Linked DNA regions of Homo sapiens: regions 1, 2, 3, 4, 5 and 7 are each linked to region 6. The links come from fine-mapping of genetic effects on gene expression. A gene starts in region 6. Each other region holds a variant in brackets. All regions are shown on one strand. Distances are from middle to middle.

Region 1 (4,066 bases), 110 kb after region 6:
TCATGGAGAACCTCTACTAGGGCAGTGGAGAGGAGGGGAAATGTGGGGTTGGAGCCCCAACACAGAGTCCCCACTGGGACACTGCCTATTGGAGCTATGCGAAAGGGGCCACCATCCTCCAGACCCACCAATAGCTTGCACCCTGTACCTGGAAAAGCCTCAGCTTCTCAATGCCAGCCCATGAGAGTGGCTCTGCCCAAGCTTCCCAAGGCCTTGGGAGCCCACCCCTTGCATGCCTGGATGTGGGACATGGAGTCAAAGGAGATTATTTTGGAACTTTAAGATTTAATGACTGCCCTGCTGGGTTTTGGGCTTGTATGAGGCCTGTAGCTCCCTTCTTTTGGGTGATTTCTCCATTTTGAAATGGGAATATTTATCCAGTGTTTGTACTCTCATTGTGTCTTGGAGGTACATAACTTGTTTTTGATTTTACAGGCTCATAGGTGGAAGGGATTTGCCTGTGTCAGATGAGACTTGGAACTTTGAACTTTTGAGTTAATGCTGAAACGAGTTAAGACTTTGAGGGACTGTTGGGAAGGCATGATTGTATTTTGCAATGGGAGACGGACATGAGATCTGGGGGGCAAGGGTTGAAATGATATGGTTTGGATCTGCGTCCCCATCAAGTCTCATGTTGAATTGTAATCCCCGGTGTTGGAGGTGAAGTGTGGTGGGAGGTGATTGAATCATGGGGGTGGATTTCTTATGAATGGTTTAGCACCATCCCCACTTGGTACTGCTTTCATGACAGCGAGTGAGTTTTCATGAGACCTGGTCATTTAGAAGTGTGAGACATCGCCCTCCTCACTCTCTCTTGCTCCTGCTCCCACCATGTGAGATGTCTCCCTCCCCTTTGCCTTCTGCCATAACTGGAAGCTTGCCAAGGCCTTCCTACAAGCAGAAGCCACTATGCTTCCTATACAGCAGAGCCATGAGCCAACTAAACCTCTTTTCTTTATAAATTACCCAGCCTCAGGTGTTTCTCTATAGCAATGTGAAAATGGAATAATACAGAGGGCTTATGATTTTATTTTTACTTCTCAGATTATGTTTTAGTAGAAGAAAAGAGCTAAGTGAGCCTGGTGCGGTGGCTCACACCTGTAATCCCAGCACTTTGGGAGGCTGAGATGGGTGAATCACGAGGTCAGGCATTCGAGACCAGCCTGGCCAACATGGTGAAATGCCATCTCTACTGAAAATACAAAAAATTAGCAGGGTGTGGTGGTGGGTGACTGTAATCCCAGCTACTCTGGAGGCTGAGGCAGGAGAATCACTGAATGTAGGAGACGGAGGTTGCAGTGACCTGAGATCACACCACTGCACTCCAGCCTGGGGAACAGAGTGAGACTCTGTCTCAGAAAAAAAAAAAGAAAAGGAAAGAGAGCTAAGTGTAGCTGTGGCAGGCCAGGTCTCACTAACACCAGCCTCCATTACAACTGTCTCAGCACTGACTGAGTAGTTAGGTTAAATATTAAAAGCTAATTGAACCAGTGCTCTTGTAGCAGGATGAGCCGCAGACGAAACCCCTCAGACACAGAGTTAAAGAAGGAAGCGGTTTATTCGGCCAGGAGCATCAGCAAGACTGCTGTCTCAAGAGCCGAGCTCCCCGAGTGAGCAATTCCTGTCCCTTTTAAGGGCTCACAACTCTAAGGGGGTCCACGTGAGAGGGTC[G/A]TGATCGATTGAGCAAGCAGGGGGTAGGTGACAGGGGCTGCATGCACCGATGGTCAGAGTGGAACAGAACAGACCGGGAAGTTTCACAATGTCTTTCTATAATCTATAGATAACATCAGTTGCTAGGTCAGGGGTCGAATTTTAACTACCAGGCTTAGGTCAGGCCGGCCCAGGCCTGGTTTCGGGTCTGGTTCCTTGGTTTCAGGTCTGGTTCCTAGGCGCCAGGCTACCTGCCTTTAGTTTTGCTTCTTTTTCCTTTTCTGAGTATAAAACAATATAAAACAGTATGAGAGGGTCTGTCTCTCTTCTCTCAGAGTATTCAATTTCCTTAGGATTTTGAGCGTTATTCCTAATACACCCTTGAAACCCCCACACTCACACAGATACGTACACAGAGGGCACATACCCCCACACCCATGCATGCAGGCTTAACACACATAGCACACGTGAACACATATATACACACATGCGTGTTCCTGTCTGGCGTTCACTTCTGGGGCTACAGAGATTGGAGGAAATCAGGAGAGGAGACAGGGGGAGCCAAGGGGGAGTATGGCAGCAGAGGAGAGGGGTCCATTAGAAGAGGTCACACTTCCCAGGAGACCAGGGAGCTCTCTTTCCTGCTGCGACTCTGTAAAACCCTACATTTCTCTTCCTGGACTTGGGAATCGATTCTCCAATAATTAAACCAGATGGACTCCAAGTTTATGTCTTTCTGGGGTTGAATTCCTGTGGAGACTTGAACTGAACGTTTGAGTTCTCTGTGGCCCTTCTGGACTCTTCCTTCCTTCAGTGATAAGGGAAGAATGAGGTACACACTTGGGGTTCAGATATGTATGGAGACAAAATTAATTAGAACAGGAGGCAAAACACAAAAAATGGAGGGGATCAGTGCGGGAAACAACCACACATGTTGACGTCCCCCGAACACTTACAGAACTATCCCCTGTTCTTCCTCAACTCTAGTCATGAAAGTGGCGGATTTGTTTAATTAGTTATTTCCGATCTCTTTACACTCTCGGGGAATGTAAGGGGTTAGCAGACTTTCGCTGAAGCCACCTCAGAGCTGGGGTGTGCAAGTGTGTGGTGATCACGTTTGTCTTCTTGTGGCTATTGAGATAAGGTTTTATTACTAATGACTTACTCATCCTTCCTGCAGACTGGGGCGTCTCCCCTGTGTGTCCTCTGGTGAATGAGGAGGACTGACTTCCGGCTAAAGCCCCGCTCACACTCTCTGCAGACATAAGGCTTCTCCCCTGTGTGTGTCCTCTGGTGACTGAGGAGGTCTGACTTCCGGCTAAAGCCCTCCCACACTCTCTGCAGACGTAGGGCTTCCCCCCTGTGTGTGTCCTTTGGTGTGTAATAACATCTGACTTATCACTGAAACCTTGCCCACACTCTCCATATTTGACTTTCGCAATTCTTGAGATTCCTACCCCCACAAATAATTTGCCTGTGTTCCCTGGATTCACTTTCTGGCCTGTTCTGGACTCTTCTTCCATCATTCTTTCTCCCACTCTAGAGCTCCCCATTTGTCCTTTGGGTGGGCTAGAAAAGGCCCTTGAAATCTCCCTCTGCCATGTCCTTTTATTCAAGAGTTTGGACCTTTCTTTGATCTCTTGACCTTTGGTTTTGTCATTACAGCAGCGTGGATCAGAATATTGCCGCTCCTGATTCTGATCCCCTGGGCAGGGATTCTCTGGTTGGAGAAGTTTTCTTGCAGATGGTCCTGGGAAGTTCTGAGAGGAGTGATTGCGTTCCACATGTTGACTGAGAAATTTTTGACTTGAAAAGGCCAGACAGCATGAGGGACATGGATGGATCTCTGGCTTTGGTTCTGAAAGAGGAAGTTTTTGGTCAGGGTAGATGTTTTGTTCAGGCCTTACTACATATGAAGGTATGAAGATCAAATGAAGAACCAGTCATTCTTCATATGTTAACAATGCAAGCTCTCTCCCACCAAGTGCTGGATGGACCTTTACAGTCCATTTTTCCATTCCACTTTTATTCACTACATCTTAAAAAATCCAGAAATCCCACATCTTGGGCCTTTTCTACGTATCAGCCAGACTCTGGGTAACCTCAAGCAGCATCAGGGGCAGCATCATTCCTTACATAGATGGAACTGCAGTGACCTTTCCCCCATGCCACAGGTATCTTCCAAGTCCTGTAAAGCCTTCCCTGATCACCTCTGCCACATGCTCCCTCCCTGGGCCCTGGGCACTTTTGCGACGCGAGGTTTTCAGCTATTTTATTCTATTGAGAAATAACACTCTTGATGACTTAGGTGAGATTGTCCTTAGTGACTTCCTAAGAGGGGAAAAGGATCTATTAGGAGCACTCAGCCTGGAGATCCACAAATGTGGTTAAAGAGATGTGTTAGCAAATCTGAATT
Region 2 (4,066 bases), 31 kb after region 6:
AAGCTGCAATATTTCAAGTTACTAAATAAATTGCCTCAGTTTCTAAGCCGTGTTTTTTGTTTTTTGGGGGAGTTTTTTCTTGCTGTTGGAGGCTATAGCTATAAACATTTGCAGTGCATTTCTGCAGTGAGCTTGCTCCTGTTTACTCTATTGAATCATATTTCTAATGGGGTATTTAAGGCGATAAGCTCACACCTCACCCTGCTTGCTCCAGTGGTTATGGCCAGTGAGAATGTGCGGTGTTGCATTGCAGAAGAAGCTAGGAAAGCTCATCTGGCCTCCTGTTCCAGTGCTTCCAGGGGATCCACGTTCAGAAGCTGACTCTGCAGGCAAGACCGACGTTATTTTCCTGGTGGCTGTGTTCAAAACCACCCAAAGGTACCTGTCTTTCATCCACCATCATTAACAGCATGAGGTTTACAGGAACTGAGTGGCTTCCTCAGAGTGTGACTTCTACAGTGAGTGACCAGGGGGCGAGGGTCCAGACAACTCAGGGCACACCCCACTCCACCCCGCCCCATCCTACCCCTTCCTGGCTTCCATATCGAGCCACACAACATCCAGCACCTTCTCCATGTCTTTATGGTGTTGATATCTCACTAAAGCTGGTGAGAGAAAAGCTCTTTCCAAAGGAAGGTGCTAGATGAATCTTTTGGAAGGTATGGGAACAAACCTTGGTTTCTGCGTATCTGACTCTGAGGACCAGCTAAGCCTCATGTTTGGAAAGCAGAACAGAAACAATGTGCAGACTGGCATTACCTCAGAGCACACTTGCCCACTTGGAGTCCTTCTGTAGGCCATGGACCTGTGCTTTGTGCTTTGTGTCCAGGGACAGTGTTCACTGAAGCCCCTGGAGACCCTGTGTCTCCACAGAGTAGAAGGTGCTCCCTGCACTTCCCTCAGTGTTAGGACCTGAGGGCTCATGCCGATTGTATGAAGCAAGAAGAGAGGCAGGAGGAGGGAAAACTGGCGTCTCTCTCACTTTCTCTATATCGTCTTGACAGTACGGTTGCTTTTCTTGGTGTGATTCTGTCTTCTAAAATATTAGAACCAGGCTGGGCGCCACCGTCTGTAATCCCAGCACTTTGGGAGGCCGAGGCGGGCAGATCACCTGAGGTCAAGAGTTCGAGACCAGCTGGGCAACACGGTGAAACCCCGTCTCTACCAAAAATACAAAATTTAGCTGGGTGTAGTGGCGGGTGCCTGTAATCCTAGCTACTCAGGAGGCTGAGGCAGGAGAGTCACTTGAACCCGGAAGGCGGAGGTTGCAGTGAGCCGAGATCGTGCCACTGCACTCCAGCCTGGGTGACAAAGTGAGACTCTGTCTCAAAAAAAAAGAAAAAAAAAAAAAAGAAATACTAGAACCTCATCATTTTGTCCCTCAGGGTTTGAGAAATACTTTAAGAGGAGTGGAAGGAACACAAACTGAGAAACATCAACAGCACCAAAAAAAGGTAAAAGGGCCAGTTTGAAAAATCAGACTGTGAAGTTTTACAGTTGAGTACTTTTAAAGCATTCACTGAATGGGCTGATCTCCTTGGGAACTGATAAGCAGGTGGGCCTGTGAGTGTGTGATGGTGACATCGTCTTCCCTGAGCTTGCTCCTGGGCGGTACCCATCCTTCCCAGGTCACCAGCACCTTCTCAACCGGTTTAGATCCTAAGCCTCGACAAATCATTTAAAAATTATATCATGGTGTGATGGTGTGGACTGGGTTTTGGGATTGGCGAAGTCAGTATTTTGTGTTTCCCCTGTGAAATGTCTCCTGCTTGTGTACCGGTGAGCATGGGGTGAAGAAACACGTAAGTCATATTGGGAGGTGTGGTGACTTGCCTTGCTACGAAAGGAATGTTT[CTT/C]TTTTTTTTTTTTTGAGACAGAGTCTCACTCTGTCACCCAGGCTGGAGTGCAGTGGCACAATCTCGGCTCACTGCAAGCTCTGCCTCCTGGGTTCACGCCATTCTCCTCCTTCTCCTGCCTCAGCCTCCCGAGTAGCTGGGACTACAGCCGCCCGCCACCATGCCCGGGTAATTTTTTTGTATTTTTAGTAGAGACGGGTTTTCACCGTGTTAGCCAGGATGGTCTCGATATCCTGACCTCGTGATCTGCCCGCCTGGGCCTCCCAAAGGGCTGGGATTACAGGCATGAGCCACTGCACCCGGCCAAGGAATGTTTCTTTGAAGACTCATGTTTGTCCTTAAAATTTTGCAAATTTTTACTCCATCTTGTAATATGTTTGCCATTCCTGGGGTCACCTTGGCCTTCTCTGGCCTTTCATGGTGTTATTTTGCAGCTGTTGGAGTAGCACTGTATTTGTGAAGTGGACAGTGTCATGGCTTACTTGTTCTGGAACTTGTCCTGGAACATTACAGGAAGAGGCTGGTAGGTCCGTGGGACACAAATATACGTAGGAGGCCAGATTTTTTGGAGGAGAGGCAGACTCTGCTTAGAACAGGTGGTTTGTGTTCCCTGGTTCTCTTGAGAAGGGGGACCACCCATACCAGTCTGTCTTAACATTTTCTTCCTTTCTTTCTTTCCCCTAATAACAGCCAGTTTTGGGACTGTTACCCCAAAAAAGTTTACTATTAAAGCTCAATATGAAGCCAGCGAGGTGAAATTTTAGGGATTTTAGATGTATCTGAAGCTACTTCTCAGCAATATCTCCCCAGCCTCATCCTTTTCCTGTTGTCTCTTTATTTCCAGAAGGCACTGGTGTTATTAAAATTGTGTGTTGGAAGGTGTTTTTCTGTTTTCTGAATCTTCTTTCTCTGGAAAATCATATGTAATTGCTTTGTGAAGTCTTACTTTGTTTTCTCTCAGAGACTGGTGAACTAGAGAATGCTGAGTCTGGAGGAGACGGAGGCAGGAGAGGAGGGAAGCAGGATAACGTTGCCTGGTGGAGGCGGATGCAGAAGGTTTGTGTGCATCTTAGTCTGCGCCTGCTGCTGTAACAATACATCAGACTGGGTAATTTATAAACAGGGTACATTTACTGCTCACAGTTGTGGAGGCTGGAGGTACAAGATCATAGCCTGGACAACATGAACGCTGTCTCCACAAAAAATACAAAAATAAGCCAGGCGTGGTGGTGCGTGCCTGTAGTCCCAGTTACTCAGGAGGCTCAGGCGGGAGGATTGCATGAAGCTGGGAGTCGAGGCTGCGGTGAGCCGTGATCACACCACTGCACTCCAACCTGGGCAACAGATTGTGAGGGCACCAATCCCATTCGGGAAGGCAGAGCCCTTGGGACCTAATCCCCTCCCAGGGGCCCCATCTCTTAATACCTTCACCTTAGGGATTGAGTTCCAACATGGAAATTTTGGGGGAACACATAAATTTAAACCCATATCAATCTTTCTGCTTGTTTAAAGGTGAACTGTTGAATTAGTTCATAAGTTTCAAAGAAATTAGTTTCTAAAAATGTACTGAGGCCGGGTGCAGTGGGTCATGCCTGTAATCCCAGCACTTTGGGAGGTGGGAGGATTGCCTGAGCCTAGGAGTTTGACACCAGCCTTGGCAACATAGTGAAACCTTGTCTCTACAAAAAAAAAAAAAAAAAAAAAAAGCCAGGCATGGTGGTGTGTACCTCTGGTCCCAGGTACTCAGGATTGCTTGAGCCCGAGAGGTTGAGGCTGCAGTAAACCATGATCGTGCGACTGCACTCCAGCCTGGGTGACCAAGTAAGACCTTGTCTCCAAAAAAAAAAAAATTAAAAAAAAATAAAAATGTGCTGAGATTTCTATCTGGATTTTATTATTATTATTATTTTTGAGATAGGGTCTCACTGTGTCATCCAGGCTGGAGTGCAGTGATACGATCACTGCTTACTGTAGCCTTGACTTCCCAGGCTCAGATGATTCTCCCACCTCAGCCTCTAGAGCAGCTGAGACCACAGGCTTGCACCACCACTCCTGGCTAATTTTTTTTTAAATTTTTTGTGGACATGGGGTCACCCACCGTTGCCCAGGCTGGTCTCGAACTCCTGGGCTCAAGCAGTCCTCTCACCTTGGCCTCCTTTAGTGCTGGGACTACAGAGCTGAGTCACCACGCCTGGCCTCTGTCTGGATTT
Region 3 (4,066 bases), 85 kb after region 6:
TCCACACCTTCTGGGAGATCACACGGAGGCAGCTGGAGGAGAAGAAGGCTGAGCTGCGGAACAAAGACCGGGAGATGGAAGAAGCCGAGGAGAGGCACCAGGTGGAGATCAAGGTGAGTGGGGCCGGCCTGCACGTGCTAACCTGGTCACCACAGAGCCCCAGAGGAGCTGGATCCAGTGAGGGTGCAGGTGGGACATTTTCTGTTCTTGGCTTTGGGAGTCACAGCCTTAAAGGTGTTTTTTATAAAAGCCTGAGGGAGAGACCCTGCAGGTCCTGAGGGTTTAAAATGCTGCCTCCACAACATGGAAGGAATATGGGCTCTGGGGGCAGACTGGCCTGTTTGCAACTCAGCTCTGCCACTTAATACCCCATGAGCTGGGGATGCACCTCACCTCCCAGCCTTGGTGTCCTGCTCTGTGCCTCAAGTGTACAGGTTTGCATAGGTGAACAGGCATGTGTAGCTGTGTAAAGGTGAGGCATGCAAGTGAGCAGGTGGATGCAAGTGAGCATGTGTGTGCAGGTGAGGAGGCGTGGCCAGGTGAGGAGGTATGTGCAGGTGAGGTGTGGGGAGGTGAGCACGTGGGGCAGGTATGTGCAGGTGAGCAGGTAGGTGCAAGTGACCAGGTGTCTACAGGTATGTACAGGTGAGGAGGTGTAGTACAGGTGTAGTGCAGGCGACCAGGTGTGTACGGGAATTTACAGGTGAGGAGGTGTACAGGTGACCAGGTGTGTACAGGTATGGACAGGTGAGAAGGTGTGGTACAGGTGTGGTGCAGGTGAGCAGGGGGGTACAGGTATGTACAGGTGAGGTGTGTTACAGGTACGGTGCAGGTGATCAGGTGTATACAGGAATGTACAAGTGAGGAGGTGTGGTACAGGTGACCAGGTGTGTACAGGTATGGACAGGTGAGGAGGTGTGGTACAGGTGTGGTGTGGGTGAGCAGGAGTGTACAGGTATGTACAGGTGAGGAGGTGTGGTACAGGTGACCAGGTGTGTACGGGTACGGACAGGTGAGGAGGTGTGGTACAGGTGTGGTATGGGTGACCAGGTGTGTACAGGTATGGACAGGTGAGGAGGTGTGGTACAGGTGACCAGGTGTGTACGGGTACGGACAGGTGAGGAGGTGTGGTGCAGGTGTGGTATGGGTGACCAGGTGTGTACAGGTATGGATGGACAGGTAAGGAGGTGTGGTACAGGTGACCAGGTGTGTACAGGTATGGACAGGTGAGGAGGTGTGGTACAGGTGTGCTATGGGTGACCAGGTGTGCACAGGTACGGAAAGGTGAGGAGGTGTGGTGCAGGTGAGCAGATGGTACTCCCATTGCCCTGCAGGTGTACAAGCAGAAAGTGAAGCACCTGCTATATGAGCACCAGAACAACCTGACAGAGATGAAGGCTGAGGGCACTGTAGTCATGAAGCTGGCACAGAAAGAGCACCGCATACAGGAGAGTGTGCTGCGCAAGGACATGCGGGCACTGAAGGTGGAGCTCAAGGAGCAGGAGCTGGCCAGTGAGGTGGTGGTGAAGAACCTGCGGCTGGTAGGTGTGGCGGGGGCACCTGGAGGCTGACAGGTTGTTGGGACGGCAAGCCTAGTGCTGCATGAACTCCTGTTTATTCAACAGCAACTGGGAATTCATATTTCTGCATAAGACTTTCTGCATTTTTGCAATTTGTTGAAAAAAAATTTTTTAAAGCATGCATCCAAACAAACCCCATTTTGGGACCAAGTACACAATTCTGTCTCAGACCTGAGCAAAAAATTGACGTCACCGAAGAGAAAAAATCCAGCTTAGGATCTTTCATGTGCTGCTGACACCTGACACCCAGAGACTTTTCCTAGGGAATAGCATCATATGCATTTAGTAGAATGCAAACCAACCATTAAAATATCCAGTGTGTTGACTCCTGGGCACTGTGACAGTTTGTCACACAAGCTGGTCTGATTTTTACTTTTGAGGCTGGGGGTTTCCAGGGCACCATTAAAATTCATCTGTGCACCTGGTTCAGTGGC[TCA/T]CACCCAAAATCCCAGCACTTGGGAGGGTCAGGTGGGAGAAGTGGTTGAGGCCAATAGTTTGAGACTAGCTTGGGTGAAATAGTTGAACCCCATGTCTAAAAAATTTAAAAGAAAACATTAGCTGGTGTAGTGGCACATGCCGATAGTTTCAGCTACTTGGGAGGCTGAGGCGGGAGGATCCCTTGAGCTCAGGAAGTCAAGGCTGTGGTGAGCTAGGATTGTGCCACTGCATTCCAGCCTAGGTGACAGAGTGAGACAAAACAAAAAGGAAAGAGATCATTTGCTGAGTGTCCATTAGCTGCTAGGTCCTGATCTGATCTCTGACAAAACGCCTGCCCGACTGGGGCTGTTGGTCTAGAAAGGAGAGACAACAGGTGAGTTGGAAGACAAAATAAACGTGCCAGATACAACAGAGTATCTGGTGGGGAAGAGTGCCATAGAAGGATCGAAGTGGGGAGAGGTGGGGTGCGGTTTTGTACAAGCAGTTGACCGGCTGGGAGACGGGATGGGCCAGTGGGAAAGCTCAGAGTGACCAGGAGGAGACTGTGGGAGAGGGTCAGAGCTTGTCCGCCTCGAAAGCCGTGGTGGGGACTGGAGACGGGTCAGAGCTCGTCCGCCTCGAAAGCCGTGGTGGGGACTGGGACTTTGACCCTGGTGGAGTCTGTTGCCCTCTGAGAACTTGGGCAGAGGAGAGATGTGTCTCACTAAGGTTCTTCCTGGCTGCTGGGTTGAGGAGACTTTCTGAACACATTTGCCTCACGCCTGGAAGCAGTCCAGCCTCCACTGAATCTGGAAGAAACTTGGTGACGTTGCTGACTTCGCAGCAAAGCCTGAGAGTGCCGAAGTCTTGAGCCCTCCAGAATTAGCTGGTCTTAACCCAGGTCCTGGATATGATATTGTTACATAATCAGAGTTTCCTGTTGGGTAAAAATATGGCTTTAGGCCGGGTGCGGTGGCTCACGCCTGTAATCCCAGCACTTTGGGAGGCCGAGGAGGGTGTATCACGAGGTCAGGAGTTTGAGACCAGCCTGACCAACGTGGTGAAACCCCGTCTCTACTAAAAATACAAAAATTAGCCGGGCGTGGTGGCGCACACCTATAATCCCAGCTACTCGGGACGCTGAGGCAGAAGAATCACTTGAACCTGGGAGACGGAGGTTGCGGTGAGCCGAGATTGTGCCACTGCACTCCAGCCTGGGCGACAGTGTGAGAGTCTGTCTCAAAAAAAAGAAAAATTACTGCTTTAAAAATAATTTATTTTTTTATGCAAATTTTAAATATATAATGTTTATTTAAATATATAATAATTGTTCATTAAAACTATATATTTATTTATTTTTAGAGATGAGGTCTCACTCTGTCTCCCGGGCTGCAGTGCAATGGTACAATCATAGCTCACTGCAGCCTCGAACTTCTAGTCTCAAGTGATCCTTCTGCCTTAGCCTCCCAAGTAGCTGGAACTATAGATATGAGCCACCACACCCACCTAATCTTTTTTTTTTTTTTTTTTTTTTTTTTTTGAGATGGAGTTTTGCTCTTGTTGCCCAGGCTGGAGTGCAGTGGCACAATCTCAGTTCACCACAACCTCTGCCTCCCGGGTTCAAGCTATTCTCCTGCCTCAGCCTCTCGACTAGCTGGGATTACAGGCATGTGCCACCATGCCCGGCTAATTTTGTATTTTTAGTAGAGACGGGGTTTCTCCATGTTGGTCAGGCTGGTCTTAAACTCCCGACCTCAGGTGGTCTGTCCAGCTCGGCCTCCCAAAGTGCTGGGATTACAGGCGTGAGCCACTGTGCCCGGCAATCTTTAAATTTTCTGTAGAAGATCTTGCTATGTTGCTTAGGCTGCCCTTGAACTCTTGACCTCAAGTGATCCTCCTGCCTTGGCCTCCAGCGTGCTGGGATGACAGGAATGAATCCTTTTAATATGCTGCTTCAGGCAGCAGTGCAGCAGGTTGGAAGCTACACACGGCACCTGGAAAGATCCCACAGCTCTGTGTGGATGTGGCTGCTGCTCTTCAGGCTGTGGGATGGTTTGGCGATGGAACCA
Region 4 (4,066 bases), 130 kb after region 6:
GCATGTTTAACTTTAATATAAACTGCTGTATTGTTTTCTGAAGTTGCTGTATCATTATGCATTCCACTATCATTGAATGAGAGTTCCTGTTGCAACTTATTTTAATTTTATTTATTTATTTGTTTTTTTGAGAGAGAGTCTTGCTCTGTAGCCCAATCTGAGTGCAGTGGCATGAACATTGCTCACTGCTGCCTCTACCTCCCAGGCTCAAGCAATTCTCCCACCTCAGCTGGGATTACAGGCATGTGCCACCAGGGCTGGCTAATTTTTTTTTTAATTTTTGTTAAAGATGAGGGTCTCACTATGTTGCCCAGGCTGGTCTTGAACTTCTGGTTTCAGTTGATCCTCCTGACTTTGCTTCCCAAACTGATGGGATTACAGGCATGAGCCACTGTGCCCCGCCTCCTGTTGTAATTTTTATTGCATTAAAAAAAGATTTTAGTCAGTTTAGTAGATGCTCAGTGGTATACCATTGTTGCATTAATTTGCTTTTCCCTCTTGACAAGTGCCATGAGCGTTCTTTTGGATGCTTGTTTGCTGTCTTATATCATTTTTAGTGAGGTGTCTACCTTTTAATTGTGTTGTGTTCTTGTTGAGCATTAGAATTTCTTTGTATATTTTGCATATAAGTCCTTTTCAGGTTTGTTTTATAAATATTTTCTCTCAGTCTGTGGCTTTGTTTTTGATTCTTGTAACAGGATGTTTCACAGAGTAGACATTTCAAATTTTAATAAAGTCCACATTATCAATTTCTTTTTCTTTTATGGACTAGCTTTTGCTATTGTATCTAAAAGTTTATCACCAACCCAAATCCATGTAGGTTTTCTTCTATAACTTTTACTATTTTATATTTGGAAATTTAAGTCTATAGATTATCTTGAGTGATTTTTTGGCTGACCCGTGAAGTTTGTGTCTTTGTTCATTCCCCCACTATGGTTTCTGTTGTGCTGTCACCACTTGTGGAACAGACTTTTCTTTCCCCATTGAATTGCGTTTGCCCCATGACAAAATCAGTTAACTGTATTTATTCGGGTCTTTTGGGTTCTCTATTGTGTTCCATTTATCTTTTTGCTTATTCCGTCACCAATATCACTCTTCATTACTTTAGCTTTGTGGTAAAGATAACAATAGTAAGTTATTGTTTCTAAACGAGGACTATCTGCATTTATTTATATATTTTTTATTCCTCTCAACCATGATTCAGTTTCCTGAATGCATATTTGTTTGTCTTTTGTTAGATTTATACTCAATGAATTGAAATTTTAAAGAATATCATTTACAATAGCACACCCAAAATTTAATTCATTAAATTCAAATTATTCCTATACATTATTGGTGATATAAAAAAATCAGCTAGGGCTGGGCGCGGAGGTTCTCGCCTGTAATCCCAGCGCTTGGGTGGCTGAGGCGGGAGGATTGCTTGATCCTTGGAGGCGGAGGCTGCAGTGAGCCAAGGTCATGCCACTGCCTCTCCAGCCTGGGCTACAGAGCAAGCCTCCGTCTCTAAAATAAGAAAGAGAAAAAGAAAAAGAAAATCCATTGACCTTTGTCTACTGGCCATCTATTTTACTTGTTAAAAATCTCCATGCGTTCTGATCAAGGCATGTGATGGTGGGCTCGATTTCAGTTGAAATTTCCAAAATCATGGCCCGGAGTAATCTGGAGGCTGAATTTCAGAGATTCCCGAGGGCTGCCGCGAGGGGGCGCCCAGCCCCTGCTAAACCCGAGCGCTGCGCGCTTGAGCCGTATCTGATCCGCAAGGCGGCGTTGCGGGGCGTTTACCGTGAGGACAGAGCTTCCTCCCTCAGGACGCGGCTGGGAGAGGCTGCGGCCTCGGGAGACATGGGGACACTTGGGGCCGCGTCCACAGTGAGACAGGGAGACGCTGCTGCAGCTTCGGGACACCTGGGGCCGCCCAGGC[G/T]AAGATGAGGAAAAAGCTTCCTGTTGCCGTTGAGTGTAGCGGCGGGAGCGCGGCCGTGTTTCCCTGTCCGCCGTTTGTAGCAGGACCTCACTTTATATTAATAAAAGCGTCCCCTCATGAGGGCTTGGGCTGGTCACCCCCAGCGCAGGCCAAGATGCAGGTTATGGATGTGAGTTTGTTTCTGGGGAGAGACCCTGGTACCGGGAGAGGAGACGCGGTCAGGAGGCTGGGGACGGGAAGGCGCCACAGCCTGAGGCCGAGAAAACAGGCGCCCCCGGATCAGTGCTCGTTTTTTTTGGTTTGGTGTGTGTGTGTGTGTGTGTGCGTGTGCGCGTGCGCGTGCGTGTGTGTGTGTGTTTTGAGACCGAGTTTCGCTCTTGTTGCCCAGGCTGGAGTGCAGTGGCGCCATCTCGGCTCACTGCAACCTCCGCCTCCCAGGTTCAAGCGAGTCTACTGCCTCAGCCTTCCGAATAGCTGGAATTACAGGGACCCGCCACCACGCCCAGCTAAGTTTTTGTATTTTTAGTAGAGATGGGGTTTCACTATGTTGGCCAGGCTGGTGTCAAACTCCTGACCTCAAGTGATCCACCTGCCTTGGCTTCCCAAAGTGCTGGGATTGCAGGCAGGCCTGAGCCACCATGCCCTGCTGCTTTTTTTTTCTAAATTAAAAAAAATTTTAGGCTGTCTTTGCTTTGATAAAATACATAGGAGTATTTTGTGTGAAGTTGCTGTAACTGCTGGGGAATCTAAGAGAAGGGATAAGTTAAACTTTGCTATTGCAATAATCCTAGAAGAAGGAAATTATTGTAAATTATAAACAACCACATTAATACCTTGTCAGTAAAGCAGAGACATCAAACTTCATTATAGAGGCCAAACCAATCCAAATCCAGGTCAGTGGAAGCTGTGTACCAAGCGCCCTGCTGTCATGTCAGTATTGCGGCTGTCATATCAGTATTACAGGTGTCATATGAGTCTTAGGGGTGTCATAGTAGTACTGTGAGTGTCATCAATATTGCGGGTGTCTTGTCTGTATCGTGGGCGTCATATCACTGTTGCAGGTGTCCCATCAGTCTTATGGGCATCATATCAGCCTTATGGGTGTCATATCATTATTAAGGGTGTCATATGAGTCTTAGGAGTGTCATGAATCTTGCGGGCTTCACATCAGTTTTAAGGGTGCCATAGCAGTCTTGCCGGTATCATCTCCATTGTGAACGTCACAGCAGTGTTGTGGGTGTCATATCAGTATTACGATATGCCATGATATGTTATACCAGTATGACACCTCTTCTGAAAACAGTCATACCTAGACATAGTGCTTTGTTTGTTTGTTTGTTTGTTTGTTTGTTTGTTTTGAGACGGAGTCTCGCTGTGTCGCCCAGGCTGGAGTGCAGTGGTGTGGTGGAGTGGTGTGATCTCTGCTCACTGCAAGCTCCACCTCCCGGGTTCATGCCATTCTCCTGCCTCAGCCTCCTGAGTAGCTGAGACTGTAGTCTCAGCCACCATGCCCGGCTAATTTTTTGGCATTTTTAGTAGAGACGGGGTTTCACTGTGTGAGCCGGGATGGTCTTGATCTCCTGACCTCATGATCTGCCCGCCTCGGCCTCCCAAAGTGCTGGGACTACAGGCCGGGAGGCGGAGGTTGCAGTGAGCCGAGGTTGCACCACTGCACTGCACTCTGGGTGACAGAGCGAGACTCTGTTTTGGGGGAAAAAAAAAACTCATACATGGAAAATTCCAAAACATTGCTGAAATAAATTCAAGAAAACTTTTGGCGGAAATTCACAAGCTGATCCTATCATTTATATGAAATTTCAAGGGATGCAGAATAACCAACATAGTGTCAAAGAAACCAACTCAGAGGCTCACATTTCCAAATTTCAAATCTTACTACAAAGCAACATTAATAAAAACAACATGATTTTGGCATCATCAATGGAATAGATCAATGGAACTGAATTCTGAGTCCAGAAATAAACCCATACTCCTATGAGCAATTGTTTTATTTTTTGAGGCAGGGCCTCACTCTGTCTCCCAGGCTGGAGTGCAGTGGCACAATCATGACTCACTACAACCTCTATTTCGTGGGCTCAAGTGATCCTCCCACCTCAAACCTCCCAAGTAGCTGGGACTAGAGGTGTG
Region 5 (4,066 bases), 40 kb after region 6:
TGTCATTGCTCTGTCTTCTGCGGCCCTTCTGCCCTGAATTGGAAACTGAACCGAGAGAGAGTACAAATCCAGTACCAGCTTTAGCCAGGAGGGTGTAAAAATTGGAATCGTAGTGGTGTGGGCGGTTTCTTTGAGACGTATGTTTAAGCACAGAGTAGGGGCTGCAGTGGGGTGAGAGAAGGTGAGGCAGGTAGAATTCTGGAGATTCTCTCTCAGATTCTAGTGGCAGGGCCCGAAGTGCCTGTGGTCTCCTGCTGGATGGAGCTCCCGGATGTCATCTGGGTGCTGTTTATTGCTGACTTGGGTTCTGTCTTTGCTTGTTGAGTTGCCAGGATGCCTGGTTGTATGTGGGGCTGAAAGTGAGTGTGGAGCCGCTGGAGGAGGGATGGCCTCGAGCCTTGGAAGAGCAAGAGCAAAGACAAAAATAAACCAGGCGGACATTTGGTGTCTTCCTGTGACAAAACAACCCAGTTGGCCCTAGATGTGAGGAGGCCTTGCTGGGTCTGCTGGCGGCACCTCCCGGGGGAGACACTGTGGTGTAAGCTCCAGCAGGGCTGCTTGGCCAGGTGGAGGAGGTGGAGGAGGTGGAGGAGGTGGAGGAGGTGGAGGAGGTGGAGGAGGTGGTGGGTGGTCACTCTCCCTGCCCCACCAAGCCAGCCACAGGTTCCATCAGGGAGATAGAAATGCCTGTGACTAGAGCCTTCAGAATTGGAGAGGCCTCGTGCTTGATGGACTTTGACACATTTAAAAGAAAGAGGCCGGGTGCGGTGGCTCACGCCTGTAATCCCAGCACTTTGGGAGGCCAAGGCGGGCGGATCATGAGGTCAGGAGACCGACACCATCCTGGCTAACATGGTGAAACCCCGTCTCTACTAAAAATACAAAAAATTAGCCGGGCGTGGTGGCGGGCGCCTGTAGTCCCAGCTACTCGGGAGGCTGAGGCAGGAGAATGGTGTGAACCTGGGAGGCGGAGCTTGCAGCGAGCCGAGATCTCGCCACTGCACTCCAGCCTGGGCGACAGAGTGAGACTCCTTCTCAAAAAAAAAAAAAAAAAGAGGCCGAGGGCCGGGCGTGATGGCTCACAGAGGTAATCCCAGTGCTTTGGGAGGCTGAGGAGGGAGGATCACCTGAGACTAGGAGTTCGAGACCAGCTGGGCAACATAGTGAGACTGCGTATCTATAAAAAGTTAAAAAATTATCTGTTGTGGTGGCATGCATGCCTGTGGTTCTAGCTACTCAGGAGGTTGAGGCAGGAGAATCTCTTGAGCCTGGGAGTTCAAGGTTACTGTGATCATGCCACTGCCCACCAGCCTGGGTGACAGTGAGACCCTCTCTCAAAAAAAGGAAAAAACCCTGCTACCTTTTGTGTAGCAACACAAAGTCCTAGAGCGGTCTCCTCTAAGAGACAGAGTTTTGCTTTGTCATCCAGGCTGGAGTGTAGTTGTGTAGTCATGGCTCACTGCAGACTTGAACTCCCAGGCACAAGCAATCCTCTTACCTCAGCCTCCTGAGGAGCTGGAACTACAGGCACACGCCACCATGCCCAACTAATTTTTGTATTTTTACTAGAGACAGGGTTTCACCAGGTTGTTTAGGCTGGTCTCGAACTCCTTACCTCAGGTGATCCACCTGCCTTGGCCTCCCATAGTGCTGGGATTACAGGTGTGAGCCGCCACACCCGGTCATTTTTATAAATTTTTTTAGAGACGGAGTCTTGCCACGTTGCCCAGGCTGGTCTTGAACTTCTGGGCTCAAGAGATCCTCTCACCGTGGCTTCCCAAAGTGCTGGGATTACAGACGTGACTCACCGTGCCTGGCATGAAGGTGCTATTTCTGACCTCCTGAGTGTGACAAGTAGTTCTCTTGGATTTTCCAGCTCTTTCTTGTGAAGTCTGGTGCCCACCCTTCTCCTGGTTGGCATTCTCGTCTATGCTGCCAGGAGGGGCCTTATGGGATCCAGGCGCAGTAGACGAGGAGGGGGCCTCTTCGGTGTTGGTGAGACAGCAGCCAAGATCTTAAAAAGCAACATCGATGTGTTATTTGCAGACGTAGCTGGGTGCGAAGAATCAAATTGGAAATTATGGAATTTGTGAATTTCCTGAAGAATCCCAAGCAGTATCAGGACTTAGGAGCAAAAATTC[CA/C]AAGGTATTGATTTTGGAAAACATAGTAATACTCTGAGCTCCACATAGATGGCTGTGGGTCAGAGTCGGTTCTTACTCCTGTTTTATTAATTTAATATTAATTACATAGAACAACAGGTACAACTTGTATGAACAGGCTTGGGATCAGATGTAGTTGCCTCTTGGTAAGCCCGTGACCCAGCCAGCGGCTAGGTGTGTGCAGCCAGACGGCGGCTACGTGTGTGCGGGCAGTCAGCCAGCGCGTTGCAGGTGGTGTGGGTCAGGGTGCTGGATCTGGCTGCTGGGCACACAGAGCAAGTTTATCTCTTCGTGCCATTTTGGGGTCATGACTCTTTGGGGGCCTGAGAGAAGCCATGGATTTTTTTTCCCAGAAATATTTGCATTCACAGAAACTCGATTCACACACCCTTTTAACTCACCTCTGGGCTTTGGACCAGGCTGACATCCAGATCCTTGCAGTGGCCTTGCACCCCCACCCCCCAGCACCTCCCGATGGGGTGGGCATTCACTGGGCAGTTTGTTCCAAACAACAAATAATGATTATACCAAGCACCGGGAACCTGGGGCGGAGCCAGAAGGTGACAGACCTGTTTTCCACTTTGATGAGCATGAGGCTGGGAAGCAGGTGTGTGTGACAGATGTGCAGAGCCTGGGGCCTTCTGCTCCTGTTGGAGCTCCACTGGCAGCTGCCATTCACCTCAGCTCATAGTCAGGTGCTGCAGTGGGTGGTTCTCTTTGCCTTTCAGAATTTTTTTTTTTTTTTTTTTTTGAGACGGAGTCTCGCTCTGTGGCCCAGGCGGGAGTGCAGTGGCGCAATCTCGGCTCACTGCAACCTCCACCTCCCGGGTTCACGCCATTCTCCTGCCTCAGCCTCCCGAGTAGCTGGGACTACAGGCGCCCACCATCACGCCCGGCTAATTTTTTTTGTATTTTTAGTAGAGACGGGGTTTCACCGTGTTAGCCAGGATGGTCTCGATCTCCTGACCTCGTGATCCGCCCGCCTCGGCCTCCCAAAGTGCTGGGATTACAAGCGTGAGCCACCGCGCCCGGCCTTTTTTTTTTTGGAGACAGAGTCTTGCTCTGTTGCCCAGGCTGGAGTGCAGTGGTGCGATCTTGGTTCACTGCAACCTCCACCTCCCGGGTTCAAGCTATTCTCCTGCCTCAGCCTCCTGAGAAGCTGGAATTAACAGTTGTGTATCACCACGCCCAGCTAATTTTTGTAATTTTAGTAGAGACAGGATTTCACCATGTTGGCCAGGCTGGTCTCAAACTCCTGACTTCAGGTGATCCACCTGCCTTAGCCTCCCAAAGTGCTGAGATTACAGGTGTGAGCGATCGCATCCTTTTTTTTTTTTTAATTTATATCTATTGCTGCTGAACAAATTACAGTTTTTTTTTCATATGCATGTATTTGCTGGGGAAAATCTGTATGATGGAGTGGGTGAGGCAGTCAGGTACCAAGAAAGGCCCCTCACGTGGTGTGTTGGTCCCCCTTTCCCAGCAGGCAGGGGCTCCTGCGAGAGGGGGCTCTGTCAGCTTCTGTGTTACATCACAGGCCTCGTGCTCTGCTGTGGATGTCAGGAAAGAGTTAGTGGGGTCAGGGCCCATCTAGGTTTCCCGTTCTTGGGTATGAGGTACAGTGATTTCCCAGAATTACCTCTGCCTGTGGCATCCCCCATGAGAATCCATCATGAAGAGCTGGCTGTGTGTGCGGCCATGGTGGGTGCCTCTCCTGGAGCACATGGGTAGGACGGAGTGTGCTGTGGGCAAGTCTGGCCCCCTCCTGCCCTGCAGCTCCTTAGCCATCCCTAATGGGATTCTTCTTAGTCAATCTCAGAAGTCACCAGTTTAAGCAGCTCTCTCACCTGTGTATCATCTGCTCCCCTGTTAAGAGCCCGATGTCACCATTCTGTTTCAGGGAGCC
Region 6 (4,066 bases):
GGGCTGGGGGGCAGAAATAATAAAGAAAAATGTGCAAAACCGAAGACATCAGACAGTGACGAGTGATTAGGGAGAAGGTGAGTGAGTGAGGGGAAGGGCCCTGCCTCCCAGAGATCACTGAGGACTGCTGAGCAGAGGCAAGGAGGAGGTGTTGGGGTTACTGGGGAGGACTGCTCCACAGAGGCTCAGCCAGGCAGGGGCCCCGGTGGGGGTGGGCCTGGCTTGTTGGGGAGACGAGCCAGGAGGTGAAGGTGGGGGTGGGGGTGGGCCTGGCCTGTTGGGGAGAGGAGCCAGGAGGTGAAGGTGGGGGCCGACTTCTTCCCAGGGTCCCTCTCACTGCCAGGCTGAGGATGTACTGTGGGGCCCAGGTGGGAGCTGAGATGGGGAAGGCCTTTCCAGAAGGAGGAGCTGGGAGAGAGGCCAGGTGGACGTGGAATCTCTAGGACTGGGGACCTTGAAGCAGCAGATAGAGCGGCGGCTCAGGGCAGTCTCCCTCCAGGTCTGAGTGCATGGAGGGACACGGCGTCCGAAGCCACCCTAAGCTGGGGTGGAATCTCACTGCACCCTTTCTGAGCGATGTGGCCTTGGGGGGGCCGATGGAGTTGCCTGTCCTGTAGGTGACTGCTGGCCCCCAGGCTTCCGTAGGGTTAAATGAGATGGTGTTGGCAACACGCCCCCCAAAACCTGGCCATAAACTGGTCCCAAAACTGGCCATAAACAAAATCTCTGCAGCACTGTGACATGTTCATGACGGCCATGACGCCCACGCTGGAAGGTCGTGGGTTTACCAGAATGAGGGCAAGGAACACCTGGCCCACCCAGGGCGGAAAACTGCTTAAAGGCATTCTTAAGCCACAAACAATAGCGTGAGCGATCTGTGCCTTAAGGACATGCTCCTGCTGCAGGTAACTAGCCAGACCCATCCCTTTATCTTGGCCCATCCCTTCGTTTCCCATAAGGGATACTTTTAGTTAGTCTAATATCTACAGAAACAATGCTTATCACTGGTTTGCCGTTAATAAATACGTGGGTAAGTCTCTGTTCGAGGCTGTCAGCTCTGAAGGCTGTGAGACCCCTGATTTCCCACTCCACACCTCTCTATCTCTGTGTGTGTGTGTCTTTAGTTCCTCTAGCGCTGCCGGGTTAGGGTCTCCCCGACCGAGCTGGTCTCTGCAAGGTGGTGTGTGGCTCCCACTTGGGAGGCCTCCAGTTACTGGCACTGTCATCACCATGCCCACTGAACAAAGTGGACCAAGCCCCAGAGGCAGCCAAAACCACACCTTTCTGCAGGGAGGGTAAACTGAGCCCGCGAGCTCAGGGCAAGCGCACCAGGCGCATATGCTGGCCTTCATCTGTCCTCAGCTCCTCCCTGCGGGCACAAGCGGGGGCAGCTGAATCTTCCACGCGAGAAGCCTAAGAGTAGGGATACGGGGGCGGGGAGCAGCAGGCCTGCTCTGTGTGTAAACAACGGGAAAGCAGGAATAACGCCAGGGCCCGCGGACACCAGCTGCCTCCGAAGTCCCGCTGCCCGGCGCCTGCATGGAGCAGCCTCCTGAGCGCAGTGTGGCGCGTCCTCCTGTGTAAAGAGGGTAGAGCCGCGCCGGGTCCCTCCCTCTGCAGCCGTGAAGCCCCCGCGGGGCCCTGCAGGTGGCTGGCGGCACCTGCACACGGTGGTTCTCTGTTCCTTTTTCCTCCTCAACCACTGAGGTTAAAAAAAGTGTTAAAAGCCACCCTTTTTGTTTTTTTGAGACGGAGTCTCGCTCTGTCGCCCAGGCTGGAGTGCAGTGGTGCGATCTCGGCTCACTCCGAGCTCCGCCTCCCGGGTTCACGCCGTTCTCCCGCCTCAGCCTCCCGCGTAGCTGGGACTACAGGCGCCCGCCACCGCGCCCGGCTAATTTTTCGTATTTTTAGTGGAGACGGGGTTTCACCGTGTTAGCCAGGATGGTCTCGATCTCCTGACCTCGCGATCCGCCCGCCTCGGCCTCCCGAAGCGCTGGGATGACAGGCGTGAGCCGCCGCGCCCGCCCATTTTTTTTAAACGTGTTGGGGTTTGGGTTTCAGCCACAGGCCTTCTGCGATGAGAGGAAACCCAGGACGCGCAGCCCCAGGTCAGGCCCGCGGAACAGCCGGGCGGACTCCGGGGCTCGCAGACTCGCGACCCGCGTGCCATGAACCTCCGCGCCGGAGGCGGCAGCAGCGAGCGCGGGGCTGGATCCAGCGTAGCGGGGCGGCCGGGCGGATCCAGCGCAGCCGGGAGACAGATGCGAGGCGGCGGTCAGGTGAGCGGCGCGGGGCCGGCGGGGTCGGGGCCGGCGGGGACGGGGCCGGCGGGGACGGGGCCGGCGGGGACGGGGTCGGCGGGGTCGGGGCTGGGAGGGACGGGGCCGGCGGGGACGGGGTCGGCGGGGACGGGGCTGGGAGGGACGGGGCCGGCGGGGACGGGGCCGGCGGGGACGGGGCCGGCGGGGTCGGGGCTGGGAGGGACGGGGCCGGCGGGGACGGGGTCGGCGGGGTCGGGGCTGGGAGGGACGGGGCCGGCGGGGACGGGGCCGGCGGGGACGGGGCCGGCGAGGTCGGGGCCGGCGGGGACGGGGCTGGGAGGGCGGCCCGCCCGGCGCAGGGGCCTCGAGACCTCGGCCGCCCCACCCCGGGGACGCCGCCGCTGCTCCGGCGTCCACACCAGCTGCGTGCGGAGCACCCGGGCGGCTCAGGGGACCCGCGTGGCCGTGCCCCCGCCCTGGGCTGCTCCGAGCCTCAGTTTCCCCCTCGGTGGAACGGGTGGGTGGGAGAGACCTGCCCCCGAGGAGCCCGGGAGACCGGGCGAGCTCCCGCGGGTGTGGTGGGTGGGGAGGCACAGTGCTGGGGTGGCTTCTCCCTGCAGCAGGTGCCGAACCCACGGCCAGGCTTCCGTGGCCAGCAGCCCTAGAGGAATGGCCATCCTGTCCCTGCGAGCCCCTGGGCCCTGGCAGGCGATGCAGGTATGGGCAGACAGGACGCTGTTGACTCCGCACACCGGGGTGACTTCTCAGGTTCTCGGGGTGGCAGCTGCAGTGATGACACCGCTTCCTGGTGGTCACGCCGCGGGCAGGACGCGGGAGGCCAGGTCCGTGCATCCCGCGTGTCCTGAGCTTCGGCCCAGGGTCCCTCCGTGCCCCGGAACCCCGCCGGCTTTCTTCGGCTTCCTTTCATTGCTAAGTTGTGGGGTCCTCCCCGATGAGAGCAGTGGGCTCTAGAGGAGGGGCAGGGGGTGGCCAGACCTCTTGCTTTCACTCTTCCACTTCCTGCCCGCTCCTTTCTGAGGCCAAGTCCCACATCTGGGTGCAGAACTGGTGGGGTGAGCCTGGTGAGAGGGGCAGGCTGGCGTTCTGCTCAGAGTCGGCCACTGTGGCCGGCATCCCCAGGTCTGTGTGAGCAGAAGCTAAGGCTGCGAGGCCAGCGGCCTCCCCTCATTCATCCCCTGCCCGTGCGCCAGGCCTGGGGCTGGCACTGACTGTCAGTAAATAGGCAAATAAAAGATGCCTTTTTTCACAGCCCGGAGGAGAGCTGGTAGCCTAGAGTACAGCTGCTGGGCAGAACGGAGGTGTCCCTGCCAGCGTGCCTTCCTTGACGCTCCTCTGGCCATGTTTTAAACACCAGGAGGTTTCCAGCGGCTTCCCCAGGCGTAGCTCCTGCACCTTTTTCCTGGGCTGGTCACCATATGTGATGACAGTGCCAGTCTGTTCTGAGCAGCTCTGGGCTCCTGGCTTCACTGACATCATAAACAAGTCCTTAGCCCTTCCATCCACCCCAGAAAGTAGGTGTTCCCCCTGATTTATAGGCAAGACAATGGAGAACCAGAGTCTAAATCAGGGCTGATTTTTTTTTTTTTTTTGAGATGGAGTTTTGCTGTGTTGCCTAGGCTGGAGTGCAGTGGCACAATCTCGGCTCACTGCAACCTCCACCTCCCGTGTTCAAGTGATTCTCCTGCCTCAGCTTCCCAAGTAGCTGGATTACAGGCATGCACCACCATGCCCAGCTAATTTGTTTGTGTTTTTAGTACAGACGGGGTTTCACCATGTTGGTCAGG
Region 7 (4,066 bases), 24 kb after region 6:
CTTGTACTTCTTTTTTTTCTTTTTTTTTTTTGAGACGGAGTTTCACTCCTGTTGTCCAGGATGGAGTGCAATGGCGCGATCTCGGCTCACCACAACCTCCGCCTCCCAGGTTCAAGCAATTCTCCTGCTTTAGCCTCCCGAGTAGCTGGGATTACAGGCCTGCACCACCACGCCCGGCTAAATTTGTATTTTTAATAGAGACGGGGTTTCTCCATGTTGAGGCTGGTCTCGAACTCCTGACCTCAGGTGATCCGCCCGTCTCGGCCTCCCAAAGTGCTGGGATTACAGGCGTGAGCCACCGCGCCTGGCCTGAAGGTATTCTACTCTTAGTTATCAGAAAGGTCGCTCAAATTTACAGAGTGGCATGACGCACTGTCTAGTATGAGCAGTGCTTTGTTGGTGAGATTATTTTGGGCACTGTATTTTTCAACGGCAAAAAAAGTAAGTGAACCATTCATGAAAGATGCTCCTGGTCACCCAAGCCTTTCTGTTGGAGCGCCAAATCACGGGCAAACTGGGCTTCAAGAACCCTTCAGAGCCTTGCGGGTTTCTGAGCGGTACACCAGTAAGGGCTTCAACTTAAAGTCCCCAGCTGCACTGCCACCAAGCAGCAGCATCAAGCGATCTTTGGATGACTTAAACCCTGGCTCAGCATTCTCTTCCTCGGAAATAAACGTTCCTTTGGGCATTCTCTTCCAATCAAGTCTCGTCTCATCTACGTTAAAGACACCTGGGGGGTGTACTCACCTTCTTCGATGATGCTTTTCAGCATTTCTGTGTACATGTCCTTGTTGCTGGGAGCTGCGCTGTTCATCTTGAAGTGGGGCAAACAGTGGCACTCCTTGAATCTCACAAGCCACCCTTGACTTGCATGAAACCTCTCCGTTTGAGAACCTTCGCCATGTTCACGCTGTAAGTCATCAAACTCAGCCTTCTCCTGAACGATGGCGGCGCTCAAGGTCGCATTTGGCTGGCTCTGGTCTTCCAGCCACAAGCTCAGCAGCTGCTCCATGCTCTCCATCACTGCACTTCGATGGCGAGTCAACCGAGAGGCTCTCAGAGGAGTAGCTATTTGTGAACTCGCTTTGATTTTTTCTTTACTATCTCGAATGGTCGCCACTGTAGAGATAGCAAGATCTAAGGCCTTTGCGATCTGACTGAGCTTCTCACCCGCTTCAAATCGTCGTAACACTTCCAATTTGAGGTCAAGGGTAATCGCTTTCCGTTCCCTTTTGGCACTAGGGATGACAGTTGCATCTGTGGGCCTTTCCCCAGGCATTTCTGCCTCCAAAATGTCAGAAAATCACAGCGGTCTCAAGCGCAAGAACGCTGTGGTTCCTCTACGTCCCCTTGCAGAACTCGGTCAACAGAAAACGAGGCTGCGAAGAGGCTCAGGCTGATGTCCTGGAGACGTGGACGGGTCCCCATGGGCAGGCCCAGCCCCACTGCCTAGCCCAGCTGCTGCTTCACTGTCCACTCCGAGGAGGCCGCGCGGGTCTCCCGGTACCGCTCGAAGTCCGCGTGTTGGGGCCGTGCGGCCGCAGGCACATACAAGCGGCCTGGGTCCTGGGGCTCCAGAGAACAACCGACCAAGCAGACAAACGGAACTCCGTGAGGGGGACACTGCGGCAGAAACGTCCAGGGGCGGTTTTCCAGTGCAGCGGAGGGCGGACCGGGCGGGTGTTGTTTCGGGAGCTGCTTTCCATGGAGGACCCCAGAAATAAGTGTTGATGCCGATGCCCGATTTAAGATAAGTCTAAAGGCGCTGGCTATCCCCTTAGGGCCCAGCTGTCTGGGCAGGGCGAGGCTGCGCTGGCGATCAAACCCTCGAACGGTCAGGCGACGGCGTGGACACCCAAGACGGGGCCCCAGCCGGCGCCGCGCCCCTGCCGCGCCTGCGCGAGTCCTCCCTGCGCTCGCGGGGCCCTAGGACCGCTCTCCCATTGCGCATGCGCGCGCCCGGGCGGCGCGGGATCTGGGTCTGGGGATGTGGTACCGGCTGCTGGCGGCGGCCGGCAGTAGAGCGGTGGCCAGGCCGCTGGCCTTGCTGTGGCGATGTGGTGGCCCAGGAGGCGGCAGGACGGCCAAGACCAGCGCGAGGGCCCTGGGCAAGGCCCGACAGGTGAGCGGGGAGGCGCTCTCCGCCGGTGCCGGGCGGCTGGTCTGCTCTGGACGCCGCGTGACGCCATTCGCCTGCGCCGGCCG[C/T]GGGGGAGCGCGGGAGGGCGGCGGCCCTGACCTGGTCCGCGCAGTGAGGCCGACAGCACCTGGCCAGAGCTTCCCGCCCCCCCGCCTCCTCCGTCTCCAAACTCCTGCTCTTCTCCTCGCTACCTCTTCCACCCACTTCTTGCGGAATTCCCGCTGTTTACTGGATGCCCGGTCCCCTCGGACATCGGAACCGGGACCTCCAGCCTCCTTGCTCGGCTTTGTAAAGCGCCGGGCGTTGAGCGATTTGCGCTTGAGTCCCACCTCCTCGCGAACCAGCTTTGTGGCCCCGCGTGCCAGCCCGTGTCCTCCTGGGCTCGGCGGCGTTCGGCTTTATCCACCTCGCAGTTACTCAGTGAACCAGACACGATAAGAGGCGTGAAAGGGTTTTGCAAACTGTTCTTTATACAGCGACCAGTCACTGTCGTTAACAGCTAATGCTGAGAGCTAAGGGCTTTACGCGGATTATCTAAGTCTTATACCCGCCCTATAGGTAGATATCGCTATAACCCTATTGTTATTTATTATATTATTTTTAAAAATTTGGGAGCGGGGCCGGAGTCTCGCTGTGTTGTCTAGGCTGATCTCGAACTCATGGGCACAAGCGATTCTCCTTTCTCAACCTCTGGAGTAGCTGGGACTACAGGCTTGAGCCACCGTGCCCTGCTCATAACCCTGTTTTATAGGGTTAGGGTCTAAGACCGGAATATTCTGCATTTTAAGATTGCTTTATTTTTGTATTGATACATCCCAGTGAGCAGCAGTAACGTTGAATTGTTTTTCTAATGCAGAGTTTTTGAATTTTGATCCCAGAAAGCTGTCATGGTTTTCAGACAGCAGTAAAATAAGAAGAAGGATCCCATGAGTATTTCTGTCCTGTCTTCAGGAATGAACTCCCCCCCCCCCCCGCCATCTCCATTCATTTGGGAAAGTGTATGATGGTTTAGTTGCTAGCAATATGAGTGAAAGCAGTCTTTCAGCTTTGGCCATGTGGCATCAGCATTGCAGAGGTCCTCCTGGTTGCTAACACATATTGAAAGTCAGCGATATGCAATATCGGTGTGTACAGCCTAATATAGCCCAGGAGAGTTTTGAATCATTGAACTGCTATAGACCCCTTTATGAAGGGAGGACGGACGTTGAATGATCTTTGAGTTCCTTCCCGGACTGGATCATTCATCTGCTTCTCATTTATTAGAGATAGATCTGTTAATCATTTACCAGGGAATATCTTGGTGAACACGACAGGCAAGGGCTCTGCCCCACTGGCTTGCTCTCTTTTGAGAGCTTTATGACTTGTGGACTGAGGGTGACATGCAGAGGTTGGAGAGGTGGCAGCAATTTGCATTTTTTTTTTTTTTTTGAGACGGAGTTTCCCTCTTGCCCATGCTGGAGTGCAATGGCGCAATCTTGGCTCACTGCAACCTCCGGCTCCCAGGTTCAAAGCGATTCTCCTGCCTCAGCCTCCCGAGAAGCTGGGATTACAGGCGCATACCACCATTCCCGGCTAATTTTGTATTTTTAGTAGAGACGGCTGGGCACGATGGCTCACGCCTGTAATCCCAGCACTTTGGGAGGCTGAGGCGGGCAGATCACCTAAGGTGGGGAGTTCGAGACCAGCCTGACTGATGTGGAGAAACCCCGTCTCTACTAAAATACAAAATTAGCCCGGTGTGGTGGCACGCACCTGTAATCCCAGCTACTTGGGAGGCTGAGGCAGGAGAATCGCTTAGAACCTGGGAGGCGGAGGTGGCAGTGAGCCAAGGTCGCACCATTGCACTCCAGCCTGGGAGTGAGACTCTGTCTCAAAAAAAAAAAAAAAGAAACAAAACAAAAAACACCCTAACAGCTCTCCTCATGGAAG

What was found.
Region 1: its variant is fine-mapped to the expression of DEF8 in spinal cord (GTEx, PIP 0.92).
Region 2: its variant is fine-mapped to the expression of DEF8 in whole blood (INTERVAL, PIP above 0.99).
Region 3: its variant is fine-mapped to the expression of DEF8 in whole blood (TOPMed, PIP above 0.99).
Region 4: its variant is fine-mapped to the expression of DEF8 in whole blood (TOPMed, PIP above 0.99).
Region 5: its variant is fine-mapped to the expression of DEF8 in testis (GTEx, PIP 0.92).
Region 7: its variant is fine-mapped to the expression of DEF8 in whole blood (TOPMed, PIP above 0.99).

Annotation. Positions count from the first base shown.
Region 1 is chr16:90,055,027-90,059,092 of GRCh38, forward strand. PRDM7 (PR/SET domain 7) reads right to left here. Exons shown (of 11, transcript NM_001098173.2): 11 at 1,540-3,508. The coding sequence ends at 3,263. Among named protein-coding and RNA genes, the nearest start is that of PRDM7, 20 kb to the right of the region's middle. RefSeq lists enhancers at 2,419-3,618, 3,019-3,068. The variant G/A (reference allele first, on the strand shown) is at 1,672.
Region 2 is chr16:89,977,425-89,981,490 of GRCh38, forward strand. It overlaps the pseudogene AFG3L1P. Among named protein-coding and RNA genes, the nearest start is that of SNORA119, 26 kb to the left of the region's middle. The variant CTT/C (reference allele first, on the strand shown) is at 1,855.
Region 3 is chr16:90,031,384-90,035,449 of GRCh38, forward strand. It overlaps DRC4 (dynein regulatory complex subunit 4), which reads left to right. Exons shown (of 11, transcript NM_001481.3): 3 at 1-113; 4 at 1,335-1,541. Among named protein-coding and RNA genes, the nearest start is that of GAS8-AS1, 3.5 kb to the left of the region's middle. The variant TCA/T (reference allele first, on the strand shown) is at 2,015.
Region 4 is chr16:90,080,392-90,084,457 of GRCh38, forward strand. No RefSeq gene overlaps it. Among named protein-coding and RNA genes, the nearest start is that of PRDM7, 5.1 kb to the left of the region's middle. RefSeq lists enhancers at 1,513-2,168, 1,967-2,096, 2,169-2,823. The variant G/T (reference allele first, on the strand shown) is at 1,922.
Region 5 is chr16:89,986,806-89,990,871 of GRCh38, forward strand. It overlaps the pseudogene AFG3L1P. Among named protein-coding and RNA genes, the nearest start is that of DBNDD1, 31 kb to the right of the region's middle. RefSeq lists a silencer at 1,571-1,745. The variant CA/C (reference allele first, on the strand shown) is at 2,142.
Region 6 is chr16:89,946,536-89,950,601 of GRCh38, forward strand. DEF8 (differentially expressed in FDCP 8 homolog) reads left to right here and starts at 2,220. Exons shown (of 13, transcript NM_001242818.2): 1 at 2,220-2,279; 2 at 2,882-2,978. RefSeq lists an enhancer at 1,230-1,569 and a silencer at 2,250-2,349.
Region 7 is chr16:89,970,644-89,974,709 of GRCh38, forward strand. It overlaps the pseudogene CENPBD1P and the pseudogene AFG3L1P. Among named protein-coding and RNA genes, the nearest start is that of SNORA119, 19 kb to the left of the region's middle. RefSeq lists enhancers at 1,615-1,674, 1,985-2,968 and a silencer at 1,815-2,294. The variant C/T (reference allele first, on the strand shown) is at 2,206.